Linked DNA regions of Homo sapiens. The protein of the gene in region 1 purifies or fractionates together with the protein of each later gene. This does not show direct contact. Each region holds a gene or a part of one and is shown in the gene's direction. Other genes may lie near its edges.

Evidence for each region. Proteins that work in one complex are often made in the same cells at the same time.
Region 2: the proteins of P2RY10 (region 1) and RUFY2 purify together in Homo sapiens (co-immunoprecipitation; one large-scale study listed by IntAct). This does not show direct contact.
Region 3: the proteins of P2RY10 (region 1) and MON2 purify together in Homo sapiens (affinity purification with mass spectrometry; one large-scale study listed by BioGRID and IntAct). This does not show direct contact.
Region 4: the proteins of P2RY10 (region 1) and SLC39A10 purify together in Homo sapiens (affinity purification with mass spectrometry; one large-scale study listed by BioGRID and IntAct). This does not show direct contact.

The regions. Positions count from the first base shown.
Region 1 is NC_000023.11:78,955,391-78,958,890, forward strand, and holds part of P2RY10 (putative P2Y purinoceptor 10), read left to right. Parts: intron 1-3,500. UniProt on the Homo sapiens protein: Putative receptor for purines coupled to G-proteins.
Region 2 is NC_000010.11:68,342,908-68,345,592, reverse strand, and holds the end of RUFY2 (RUN and FYVE domain-containing protein 2), read left to right. Parts: 3' UTR 1-2,185; downstream 2,186-2,685.
Region 3 is NC_000012.12:62,473,326-62,476,825, forward strand, and holds part of MON2 (protein MON2 homolog), read left to right. Parts: intron 1-3,500. UniProt on the Homo sapiens protein: Plays a role in regulating membrane trafficking of cargo proteins. Together with ATP9A and DOP1B, regulates SNX3 retromer-mediated endosomal sorting of WLS away from lysosomal degradation.
Region 4 is NC_000002.12:195,655,865-195,660,025, forward strand, and holds the start of SLC39A10 (zinc transporter ZIP10 precursor), read left to right. Parts: upstream 1-1,361; 5' UTR 1,362-1,393; coding exon of another isoform or gene 1,394-1,745; intron 1,746-1,801; exon of another isoform or gene 1,802-1,946; coding exon of another isoform or gene 1,947-2,115; intron 2,116-4,161. UniProt on the Homo sapiens protein: Zinc-influx transporter. When associated with SLC39A6, the heterodimer formed by SLC39A10 and SLC39A6 mediates cellular zinc uptake to trigger cells to undergo epithelial-to-mesenchymal transition (EMT).

The DNA.
Region 1 (3,500 bases):
GACTCAATTTCCCAATAGGTAAGAAAAGCTTATATACCATCTTGAAATTACAGAATAAATGTGAACTCAGAGTATGTTCAAAAACAGTTTTTGGTGGCAAGACAAGTTATTGGAGAAAGGAAGTAAGAGGCTTGGTAACAGAGTTGGCCTTGTTATAGATGAAACCTATGTCAGAGAGAACAGATGGTAAATGTTTCTTTTCCAACTTTTAAAGATGTCAGGCTCAATCTCTCCTGGATCTGAGAAAAGCATAGAATGGGGAGGCATGGCTACATTCATGGAGATTCTTTGCAAATGCAAATTTTCCCCACCTCAGTCTGTGAGCCCTGAGGCAATGATCTCAAAATATTTTAAAGAAATATATTTTAGGGTAAAATATTTTTATTTCCTTCACCTTTAAAAGATAGGAAGTTTCTCAGGGACACAGATCGTTGTGGATGATTCTATATTCTCCATAGAACCTAGCAAATAGCTCATAGGATGGGGCTTATTGAATATATACTGATTGAGTGTGGGCTTTAAAGCAGCCAAAGTCCTCAAAAAGCCATGGAAAAGGAAATAGAGTTATTTCCCTTTATGTTTTCTTTTCAAATGCAGAGAGCTTTAGTGATTACAGACGCAGCCTCCTCACTCCCATGTGTAGGTGGATAACAAGTCATTTTCTGATTTCCTTCACAGAATGACAACCAAGAAAAATAAAAGGTTGAGATAACTTTGAAAGCAAATCATGAAGCTGTCCTTTTCTTGAGGTCCAGATAATAGTATTGATGGTACCCTGAGACCTTGGACTGTGCTAGTTTCTACCCATAGGATATGTCTGACCACCTGTGATTTCTAAATTGATTTCTTTTCTCTTTTCTCAGGTCTCTACAGGTATTGCTTTTCTGAGGTGAAAAGGATAGGTGCAGGGAATATTGATAGGAGAAGCCCAAGTCAGAAGACAACATTTTAGGGAAATAGTCGGCATCAGAAATGTACTAGTTGATATATCAAGGTTTTTAATTTATGCTTAATACTTCTAAACAGAAACTTTGAACTATTGTTTAAGCAGTTCAGTTCAATTATACTTTTTATATGTTCTTTGAATGCTTACTAGGCTAGGTCCTGGCTATATGGTGATGAAAAAAGGAGATCTTTTTGTGGCACTGATGGACTTAAGAGCACAGTGAGGGTAATAACCAACAAACAAATTAAAAAAAAAAACCCTAAATTACAAATGTTGATGCTAAAAAGAGAAAGAACAGAGAGTGTGAGAGTGTGTAATGATGTATAGGATTACCTAGATCGAGTGAGTGGTTAAGGTCTCTTAGACCCACAGATTGAGATTAAAAGGAACCAGAGATGTGAATTTTGTGACCTCAGCACCACTTATTTAACCTCTTTGAGCCTCAATTTTCTCATCTGCAATGTGGAAATAATCACAGGACTCCTGTGAGGATGGATGACATAATGAATAAAGTGTTTAGCCTGTAAATAAAAGGCAGCCCTAAATAAGTGGTAGCCATACTTAATGTTAATGTTAGACATGGTATGGAGAATGAACTTTAGGGGAAGGACTGGAATGTAAACAGTTTAGTAAGGGAGCTGTTGCAATAGCCAATAGGGTTGATGACAGCAGCCTGGATTAGGATGGTGACAGTAGAGGTGGAGATAGGTTAGAGAGGATTTTACATGGAAGGAAGAATTACCTGGGTTTTCTGGGTTTTTATTGTCTATGGGAGGAAATATAGTGGCAAAGGTCAGAATTACTCCCTAATTTCTAGCTTGAGTGTCTGGGAGGGGAGTCAGGTCACTGACTGAAAAGGGAAGCACAGATTCAGGAATGAATCACCAATCCCACATCCCTATGAGACAGGAACCAAGAATATGTCCAGATTGGAGGGGAGAGAAATTGGCAACACAAAGGGAGCAAACTGCCCACAAGTAGGCAACAATAGAGCCAGACTCATAGATAGAGGAAGAGAAAGACACACACACACACACACACACACACACACAGAGAGAGAGAGAGAGAGAGAGAGAGAGAGAGGGATGGGGTGAGGGAACAGAGAGAAGGAATATACTCTGATTTTAGTCCTTCCATCCAGGATTTTCTTGTTAGTGGCTTCTTAGCTTCTCCTTTCTTATATTTCAGAAATGACACAATTGTCCATAGCAAGCTAAGTGTTCCCTCTAAGAGAGTCTATGTTTCTGCTCAACCCCAAATAAATACCTTCTGCCTCTCCTCATCACGGGGATTTTACATCTAATGGTCACTAAGAAGATTTGGGGGAAAAAAAGCCCTTCTTACCTTCCCTTCAGTCTGAAGCAAAAAAGAGGTTTTTGGAAACAAGCCATGCAAATCTCTACGCTCACAATGAACTGTGAATTGCAGAAGCATAAGAACCCACATTTAAAAAATAAAAAAGGTGTAAACTTGACCTCTAGCTTGCTGTTCTGGCATAATTGGGCTCTGTTATTTAACAGGGAGGTGTGAACAGAACATGCCCATTTTGTAAGTGAAACTTTCTGCACCAGTGAAGCTAAAACAAATAGCCATTTCTTTTAAGTGCAAAAGTGGAAGTGTGACTGCAGGAGAGTAAGGTTATGAACAATTCTTAGTTATTGAAATTGTAATGCACTGATGGATCTTTCTTTGCTCTCTCACTGCCTGTGTGTGGACAATAGTTGATAGTAGAAGCAGTGCCAACACTAAAATCAAAGTAGGTGGTAGGGTGGGAACAGTGTGGCATAAGTAGGGACAGGTGTTTACTTCTATTCTGATTGTCCAACTAGACGAATTCTAGTGTTATATAAGTTCCTACTATGGGATTAGAATGGTTCTGCCACAATGTGCTCTTCACATGTCACAGTGAAATCGAAATAATGTCTTTTGTAGCAACGTGGATGGAGCTGGAGGCCATTATTCTAAGTGAAGTAACACAGGAGTAGAAAACCAAAAACCAGGTATTCTCACTTATAAGTGGGAGCTAAGCTATGAGCATGCAAAGGCATGTGGAGTGATAGTTAAGACAGCCAAATTCTACTAAGTAGTCTCTCCTAGTCAGGGAGAGGAAAGTGGCATAGTGGAAATACCACACGCTTCAGAGCAAGCCAGGAATGATAGTAAATCCTATCTTTACCATTTTCTAGCTTTGCTACTTAAGGCAATTTACTGAATGCCTCTGAAGCTCAGTTTTTTCATCTAGATCATAGGGTGATAATAGTTCTTACATCTTAGGACAGTTGTGAAAATTAAATTAAATAAATACACCTGAAAACTTCCATTACAGATTTTGGGATACATCCTTGATCGTCACCACATGATAATTATTTCCTGCCTTTCCATTTGTGAGAGTCCCTTCCACCCTCCATTCTAAGTAACACATACATAAGCAAGATGACTGCATGACTGTTTAAGATGTATCACAAATAAGAGGGCAAATAGGGAGATGGAATAGAATGGGGGAAAGCAAAAGTTTTATTTACAGTAACAGCAGCTCATAACAGCCACACTCTTT
Region 2 (2,685 bases), on another chromosome or scaffold:
TTTTTCAAAATGTATTTTCAACAGAGCATGCTTAAAAATCATGTAACTCATTAAAAGGCCAGAGAGCAGAGCTAACACAACTTGCCTTATCTTGTAAAGGCCTTAAAAATAAGGCTTCAGATTGTTTTTTTCTTCTGAATTCTGTCAATTTGGTATTTGATGGTGCCTGCAGTTCTCTTAATGCACTTTAAAGCTTCACAGTTCTGAAACTGGAAACGCATAAAACTTTTAAAATTATTAATATTCTAATTCAACAGATTTTCATTATCTTTGTAAGATTTCAACTATATTTATTTGCCCTTTCTTCTCCCCCTCTCCCTTTGCCTCTTGCATTAGACAGGGCCAATATTTTGTCCTACAAAATTTCCTCTTGGTCTCTTTAAAAATCAGTTATTGTCGTGCTTGCTGAAGATTTTCAGCTACAGTGGATTAAATTAAAGGGGGCATTATTTGGCCTCGGCCTCTACTTTTTTCCTTTTAATCTTGAAAGGAAGTTACATATAACCATCTTTCTTTTCCTGATTTATAAATCTTCCCATATGCTGTTTCATTAAATTGCTGTTTTTTTAAGGGGTGACTCAGACCCCAATTCAAAGATGAAAACACAAATCCTTCCCCAGAAAAAAAAGTATGTAATAGTAGGGGATGTTACAGGCTCCTTATAAAGGTCCTCTCCTCTAAGCATTAAAAGTGAGAAAAAAATCAGGACTTTGCTTTGGTAATGTATTAGAGTTCAGTTCAAAAAATTTTGTATTAACATTTTCATTGGAGTAAATTTTAGGAAGTATCACATTGTAGTGGCCTACCTGTATACATCCACAGTAAAATTTCACCATGTCCATTGAGCACCTCTATGCCAAGGGTGTTGAGATGATGAAATATACACTTGACCTATTTCTTTTTTTTTCGAGATGGAGTTTCACTCTTGTTGCCTAGGCTGGAGTGCAATGGCACGATCTCCACCTCCTGGGTTCAAGCAATTCTCCTGCCTCAGCCTCCCAAGTAGCTGGGATTACAGGCGTGAGCCACAGCACCTGGCCAGTACACTTGACCTATTTCAAGCTGACTCAATGAACACTAATCCAAGTTATATTGCTTATGGCATACTAAGAATTTAACTTGTATAAATTACCTCTGAATAGTTACATAAACACTATCACCATTCAGTATCCTATTTTTTACATTAATTTTTAACCATGCACTTTAAGTTTGTGAGCCTATAAAAAATACATAGAAAATTTATGGATTAAGAGCATTATATTTAGTGGTTAATCCTAGGTACCTCCCTGCCTACAAAGGAGTTCTTATTAATACTGCAGGATCTTTTCTTCATGAATATATGCTTCCATGAAATTTAAATTTTTCTGAATAGCCTAAGTATGAAATGAATATTTTACTTGAAGATCTATTTTTTCCAAAACCCGTAAATTTCCAGTCAGCTTTTGAGGTGTCAGATGTGACACAGATTTCTAGATGGTCTTTCTTGAATACTGACAGAAATGTCCTCAAGAGAGGATTATATTCTTGAACCATTTTGTATTGATAGGTGGGATGGGCTAACATTTTTATGATTACTGAATAAACAAAAAATGAAATTTTCAAATATGCTTTTTTATTACTGTGCTTAGAACAAATTTTAAAATGTGACTTAAGTTGCTTAAATTCCAAGGCTAATTTCATTCAACAAACCATGATTTTGTCATCCTTTAAGTAAGTTTCTCACTTTTCAAAACTCATGTATCAACACTGACTGACTTGCTTTTTTTTTTTTTTTTTTTTTTTTTAGGCAGCTTTTATGACAGCAACTTGCTCCATGTAGTTTTGGCTTATTTAAAAACTATACTAACTTTGGATTTTTCTGTTACAAGACTTTTAACAATCTGTATTTCGTGATTGTGAACTCGTATTCATTTTACTTTTCAAAAACAGACTTAACATACCATTCCCTCACCTAGCAGTACTACCACAATAATGCTATCATGGTGCCAGGGAATTACAATTGTAATTCTTCTAACCTATAATGTTTAAAAAATAAAATGTGAATTTTATGAACTAAATAAATATTTGGAAAATTAGCCTGCTTTAAAAGGGCAATTTTGGTTTCATTAATACTGTATACTTTTACTGCTTTAAGATGTTAAGAGAGTAATCCTGGGAAAATAAAACACATACAACTTTCAAAAAAGACAGGTGGTGTATGCCCTAATATTTAAATTGCTCATTAAAGGAAGTGGATACAAGCATTAAGATGAATCATAGCTTCAGTCAAGAGGCTCCACATATATAGGCTGCCCCGGCTCCCTCTCCTAAATCATAGACATCGTATGTAGTACCACCTTCTACCAATTTGATTTTAGAATTAGTAACTGACACAAAGCATTCTAGGACAGACGCCATACTATTATCTCCCACAATGACATTTATTAATAACATTTCTGGCAAAAACAAGTAACAAGTTCAATAACTGAATTCACATCAACAGGTTTCATTTTGATCCATTAGCCAATTTGGAAAAAAGCCATATTGATCAAAGGGATTAAAATTAAAAAGCACCTTTTCCTTGCTACATATAGATTCTTTAAACTAAAACTCCAAGCAGGGATCAGATACAAAACCCAACTGCAGGATTGTTTTTATTGACTATGACATGGACTTGTTGCTTACATTTTTTTAAAGTCATCATTT
Region 3 (3,500 bases), on another chromosome or scaffold:
AAATGGTGGAAATGGTATGTGAGTCCATGTGAGTCCATCTCTAACTCCTCTCCCATTTTCCATTATATCATGCTGCACATGCCTTTACAACTTTCTTGTTTTTGTTATTGTTCCCATTTGTTTACCTTGCTTCATTATTTGTTACTATTGGTTATTCTTTCCATCTTGGAACCCTCTAGTTTTGAGTTTTGTAAGACTGTACTTCCCTGTTTCCCCTCTCAGTATTCCACATCCTTTTCTTTTTCTTTTTGTTTCTATTTTTTGAGACAGGGTCTTACTCTGTCACCCTGGTTGGAGTGCAGTGGGCTATCTTGGCTCACTGCAGCCTCTGTCTCCCAGGCTCAAATGATCCTCCCACCTCAGCCTCCTGAGTAGCTGGGACTGTAGGCAGATGCCACCACGGCTGGCAAATTTTTGTATTTTTTCATAGTGACAGGGTTTTGCCATGTTGCCTGGGCTGGTCGCAAACCCCTGAGCTCAAGCAATCCACCTGCCTCAGCCTCCCAAAGTGCTGGGATTACAGACCCGAGCCACTGTGCCCGGCCATCCTTTTCTTTACATACAAGTGTCTCCCAGGTTCTCTCTTCAGATCCTTCCTTTCTCCATGCTCACCTGCTTGGCATCATCCACTCCTATTGCCTCTGGACTTGCTGCGATGCTGATGACTCTTAAATCTACTTCAGTCATTTGCTCTCTTTACTGAGTGTAGATCTGCATTTCCAGCTGCACATCAAACACATCTAGGACGTTTTTTCACATGCGTCAGTAGAACTTCTTCTTTTTCTTTTCTTTTCTTTTTTTTTTTTTTCTGAGACAAAGTCTCGCTCTTGTCCCCCAGGCTTAAGTGCAATGGTGCGATCTCAGCTCACTGCAACCTCCGCCTCCCAGGTTCAAGCGATTCTCCTGCCTCAGCCTCCTGAGTAGCTGGGATTACAGGCGCCTGCCACCACGCCCAGCTAATTTTTGTATTTTCAGTAGAGATGGGTTTCACCATGTTGGCCAGGCTGGTCTCGAACTCCTGACCTCAGGTGATCCGCCCGCCTCGGCCTCCCAAAGTGTTGGGGTTACAGGTGTGAGCCACTGCGCCTGGCCTCTTCTTTTTCTTTTCTTTTCTTTTGAGACGAGTTTCACTCATGTTATCCAGGCTGGAGTGCAGTGGTGCAATCTCGGCTCACCGCAACTTCTGCCTCCCGGGTTCGAGTGATTCTCTTGCCTCAGCTTCCTGAGTAGCTGGGATTACAGATGCCCATCACCATGTCTGGCTAATTTTGTATATTTAGTAGAGACGGGGTTTCTCTGTGTTGGTCAGGCTGGTCTCAAACTCCCGACCTCAGGTTATCTGCCCGCCTCGGCCTCTCAAAGTGCTAGGATTACAGGTGTGAGCCATCGCGGCCAGCCAGATAGAACTTCTTGTAATTGAACTGGTCTTTTCCTCAAAACGTCATTTTCCCCCTATTTCAGTTGTTTTGTTAATGGTATCTAGCACTGTTGCCTACTTTAGTCATATTTGGCTATCTTCTCTCCCTCATCTCTCTTTATTCACTGTCACCTGTTCCTTCCAGCTCTGTAATTTTTAGCATACTTCTCCTTTTTTCTGTTTTCTCAGCTATTATGCTAGTTCCAGATTCTATTAGTAACATTATGCCTGGCCTTTGACATACATTAATAGCATACATGACTTCAAATCATTCTGTATGTCACCCATGCAGAAGCCCACAATGTCTACTCTACTTATAGGACTCTAACATAGCATTTAATATTCTCTTGATTTTCCTAACCTTCCTTTTTAGCTTTATCACCCTCAAATCTTCTTCATATGCCTTTATGCTTCACCCCAACTAGGTTACCTGCTAGTCTCCAAATATGTCCTACTGCTTCTGTCTTTCATGTTATGGCTTCTTTGTTTTTTTGTTGTTGTTGTTATTTTTGGAGATGGAGTCTCTCACTCTTGCCCAGGCTGGAGTGTAGTGGTGTAATCTTGGCTCACTGCAACCCCCACCTCCCAGGTTCAAGTGATTCTCATGCCTCAGCCTCCAAAGTGGCTGGGATTACAGGCGCCCGCTATCATGCCCAGCTAATTTTTGTATTTTTGGTAGAATATTTTCAGTAATCTAGTAATTTAGCCTGGGTGAAAGAGTGAAACTCTATCTTTAAAAAAAAAAATTAATCTTCAACAAGTATCTAATTAGCACCTCCTAGGTATACAAATGCTTTGCACTATAGTGAATTTAGCATTTAGTAATTTAGTATTTTTAGTAATTTTGTATTTTAGTTTCACCATGTTGGCCAGGCTGGTCATGAACTCCTGACCTCATGATCTGCCCGCCTCAGCCTCCCAAAGTGCTGGGATTACAAGCGTGAGCCACCACACCCATCCTCCTTTTCTTAAAAATTTAGTCTTCAGCCGGGCACAGTGGCTCATGCCTGTAATCCCAGCACTTTGGGAGGCTGAGGCGGGCTGATAACCTGAGGTCAGGAGTTCACGACCAGCCTGGCCAATGTGGTGAAACCCCATCTCTACTAAAAATACAAAAAATTACCTGGGCATGGTGGCGGACGCCTGTAATCCCAGCTACTCGGGAGGCTGAGGCAGGAGAATCACTTGAACCCGGGAGGTGGAGGTTGCAGTGAGCCGAGATCTCGCCATTGCACTCCAGCCTGGGCAACGAGAGCTAAACTCCGTCTCAAAAAGAAAAGAAAAGGAAGGAAAAAGCATACCACCTATGTGGGAATACCATGTATATATTTTTAGTTATATACATGTAATCTGCATTCCAGTCTTTGATTTGTTAAGGAAATTTTGTTTTCTAGAAGCCAGAGGTTCTAGAATAGAATGTCATATAGGTATATATTTTTAGAAGGTTTTAGGGTTGTAGAATAATTGAATGTTACAGAAGAAAATCTTATTGATTTCAATGTAGTATTTGTTTTGTGAGCATTTTGTCACCTAAAGGGTGTTCTAGATGTATCAAGTACTCCCAGTGTACACTTGACTTCGGGTCTTTTGATTTTACCTGACATCTGAAATCACAAGTCTTCAGGCAGCTCCATACCTCTCTTGTGTCTCATTAGTATATTATTTTATCTAAGTTGCCATTAACTTGAATTTCACTTTTTTTTTTTTTTTGAGGCAGAGTCTCGCTCCATTGCCCAGGCTGGAGTGCAGTGGCATGATCTAGGCTTACTGCAACCTATGCCTCCCAGGCTCAAGCGATTCTCTTGCCTCAGCCTCCTGAGTAGCTGGTATTACAGGTGCACACCACTACTGACCGGCTAATTTTTTGTATTTTTAGTAGAGACGGGGTTTCACTATGTTGGCCAGGCTAGTCTTGAATGCCTGACTTCAAATTATCCACCCACCTCAGCCTCCCAAAGTAGTGGGATTACAGGCATGAGCCACCATGCCCAGCCTCACATTTCTTCTTTAGCTCTTGTTTCATGCTGTGTCCTGTGGAAAAATAATTTGGACCTTTGGTAAATTTGCCTTAATATCCAGGTTT
Region 4 (4,161 bases), on another chromosome or scaffold:
GTAGAGATACAAAACAAAAAATAACCTTCTTTCATGAAGGTATAATATGCAGGTTAGCGGGACTACCTAGCCGTCCATACTGAATGGGTTTGGAAATCCCAACTCTTTTCTCTACCTGCTCTGTGATACCAGGCAAGTTAAAGTCTTGTGTGCCTCAGTTTCCTACCTCACCGTGTTATGGTGATTAAATTAATATATATGTGGAGTACTTGACACACAGTCAAGCCTGCGATTACTGCTGTTCATGGTTTTATTTTCTCTACTAGACACCAGTAAGGCACCCCCAGAACTCGCTGTGTTAAGTAGATTCTGGTTGGATATAGAAACACAGGCACCCCAGGCGGAATGCAGATACGCCTCAACATGTGGATTAAGTAAGAGCCAGGAAGCAGAGTAATGAAGCAAAAATAAGACGTCCAGAGTCACCTTTTAAGAAAATGTGGGTTGGTGGTTGCTTAAGAGGGGAGGAGACAATTTAGATGGGATGTATGGCGTGAGCAAAGGGCAAGAATGAGCACGGTGTAGGCACAAGTCCATGGAACTGCTTGGCTGGATCGGGATTTTTTTGTCATAGAGTGTTAAGAAATAGTCGATCAGTTGAGGAGTAGAGGAGTGAAGACCTTGGAAAGTTGCCAAAAGCCTCGAGAATTTCTCTACATGTGTGACATGTTCTCAGGACTCAACTTTTTCTTTTAGGTTTGGAAGACCCGCAGTAAGTGTGCTTTAGAATTAAATGGGTGGGAAGGGGAGCTAGGCAAAACACCTCGCACTTAGCACTAAATAAAGTTCGCTGTTGCCCTAAGAGACTGAAAAGGTTACTTTAACAAAGGGGGCGGGGTTAACTTAACGTAGATGTTTAACTCGTATACAGATGAACATTCCAGTTGATCACTCTGAAGCTTTTTGGCTAAAGCGTTTGGGTTTAGAGCTTCCATTACTCATTCGCCTTGCCCAAGGCCTCAGCAACCGACGTTCGAAAGCCAGGAGAAAAGGCGAATGATAAAGGGCGCTCCACGCATGCGTTAAGAAGCCGCCCCAACTCCCCCGCGGCGTTCTTTCTTGGAACAAAACTAGCGCGGAGCCACGGAACTCCGCAGTTTGCGTAGACTTGAATTTCCTATTCCTCGGACGATCCATGTGGAATCCGTGAGTAGTGCGACTCCTTTACGCAACTGGCGTTATCCGAAGTGAATAGCTAGGTGGCGCGTGTACGCCCATAGCGTAGCACCCATAGGCGGACGGGGTGCGGCTGCGCAGGGAGCTGAGTGGACCTTGTACGCCGCAAGCGTAGCAGGGTGTCAGACGCGCCGGTTTCTGCGACGCAGTTAGCGCAGTCTGCTTTGGTGAATACACGATTTGGTGCAGCCGGGGTTTGGTACCGAGCGGAGAGGAGATGCACACGGCACTCGAGTGTGAGGTAACTATAAAACCCCGATTTGTTTACATTCCCTCCCCCAGAACCGGCCCCGTGCGCGGCGGAGACTGCGAGTCCCGGGACGGCGTGGGGGTAGAAAGGGAGAACAGAACCGGGGAGTCGGGGCTGGTTCCCTCGGGGATGCGGGCGCTGGGGTTCCCGCAGCTGCTGCAGTCGGCGGCGGCCAGCCGAAGCAGAGCGCGTGGTGGGCAGAGTGTTGGGCGCCGCGGCTCCTCGTGTGCGGTCTGGGCTGCTGCGGGCCGCGGGATCGGGAGCCGGCGGCATCCACTTCGCGTGCGGAGCCTCGCGCCCCCCTCACCTTCCTGTGGAGGTTGGCGGAGCCTCGCGGGCCGCGCCCGGGGTGGGGGAGTGACCGCTGGGCGGGTGGCGGCGGTTAGGGGGCTGCGCGCCGGCCGCGGATGGCGTCGCAGGCGCGGGCGGGCGAGGCTTTGGGGATCTGTAGGCAGGTCTTCGGGGGCTTGGCGACCAGCGCCCCGGTTTTTTCTTCTCCAGTCCTTCTCTCTGGTCTGTAATGGGGCGAGGGGACCCCGGGATGGAGCCTCGGCACCGCTGTTCCGGACCGAGGCTAACGGACGGCGGCGCCTCTGCTCCTACTAGTTTTCTCCCGGACCAACCGAAAAGCCGAGGCGGAGCGCGGGGGTGTGAAGATCTCGGCCTGCTGGGGGTCCCTGGAGCTGAGGGTGAGGGTGGGGCCGGGTCGGTGGGACAGGCCGGGTGGGCCGGAGGTGGCGCGGCCGCACGGCTTTGTTCCGGAAAGCCCTTAGGTGGAGAGCGATGTGGGGCGCGGCAGGGGGATCGCGTAGAGGAACCTTCGCGCACCGCCTCTCCGGGTCTGGGAATCTGCTGAACTCCTTGCCTCTCCTGGGGTCCCTCGAACGCCCCAGCTAAGAAGGGCGGGGGCCTTGCCAGGGCGCGAGCAACATGACGTTCAAGGTCTTCCTGTGGCTTCTGTAAAGAAATGTTCACGTGGGAGCCTGTCCACATGGGCTGTACTAAGGATCTGGCACGAGGAAGAAATATCACTGCAGAACCTGAAGCCCTCCGTTGGAAGGGTCGTTCACTCGAGTACCTATTCTAAGTAACAGTGACACAAAACACATGTTAGAAAAAAACAAAAAGTATGGTAGGTTATACTGTTTTTTAAAAGAAACTTTTATTTATGCCTTTTGCTGTTAAGTCCTCTAATTTTACATTGGAACTGAGTCATTCTTGGAGCAAAACTAGAATAGGTTTGTATTTGTTTTCTTTTTGGATGTGTATCTAAATTGTACATAATTAAGAAAAAGCAAGTAATGGAAAAGCTGGAGATGTAGAACTTAGTTCCTTCTAACTTAGTATGCAATTGAAAGCCTCAAGTCAAGACTCCTGTGTATTGTTTTGTATTAGGACTCTATTGTACAAATATTTGAGTACCTTAATATGAGTCAGTTACTTTTTCTAGATCTTGGATCCATGCCAGACAACGCACATTCTGCAGACACTGGTTACTCCAGTGGCTCCTTACTGGAAACATATAATATCAGTGATAAGTGCTGTGAAGAAAATAAAACAATGATGTGCTGGTATGGATTTTTAACTTTTTTATGTGATGAACCACAGAATGATGGTTTTAAATGTATGAAATACATAGAATTGCAACAGAAACCAGTTATGAAATAATGAAGATATTAAATATGACATCTATATTTTAGTAAAGCATTAGTGAGGACTGTAAATGATCTTTAAAGAATTTGGCTTAAATTTAATCTAAAATTGCTATCAGGTATTTCACATCGCTGTAATTTTTGCCTGCATTCGTAACTGAAGAGATAAGTAAATGTCAGAGGTTAAGATAAATCTTTTTCTTTTTTTACCTGTCCATATTTACAAACATTCTGCGTTCCGTACATAGACGCCTGGATAAGAACCCCTGTGCAAGAATGACTTTGGTGCTACTTTAAAAAAAGTGGTTGGGGAAGACCTCATAGGAAATGACATCAATAATAGATTGCATGATAACCTATACTAGTTCTTACTGTTACCAATTTAAATTCTAACTGCTTAAAAGCTAACACGGTCCTTCCCTTTTTTTGAGCACCTGATTTGAAGTACTTTGAGTAGGCCTCAAGTGTCGTATGCAAGTACTAATCTAGGGGGTGTGCCTTTTTCAAAAGTGATTTTTGGAGAAGATAGGATGTAGTATTATAGCAAGGAAAATTCAGCATCTGGGATGATCATTTCCTTCTGATTAGAGAAATTTACCTTGTTAATATTCTGTTCACCCAACCCTTCTACCCTCAGTGTTGACCAATACTGGAAAAAATTTAGGGCTTTGGAGTGAAATTTTAAAAGTTCAAAACCTTGATCTATTAATTAGTTTGCTTACCTTGAGGAAGTTGCTTATCTTAATCTTCTATTTGAACTTCAAGTACAAAAACCCTACTCACGGACTTAACTGTGACCATTAAATGAGATAACCAAAAGGCTGAAGATGATAGTGAGTTGATTTTACCTTTTTTCTACATACAGATGTTTCAGTTCTTTCATTAGTGGTTGAAGGTCTGCGTTCTTTTTCTCCCTCCACTCCCTCCTTGACTACCCCCAGAATGAGCTTTGATGGTCTCTACTGGGCCTTTGGGGGGGATACATTATCCTGTTGTTTTTGTTCTGTTACTTATATATAATACTCATGGATTTATTTCTACTTCTCTTCCATTTTCTAATTTATAATAACATGTGCATCTTGT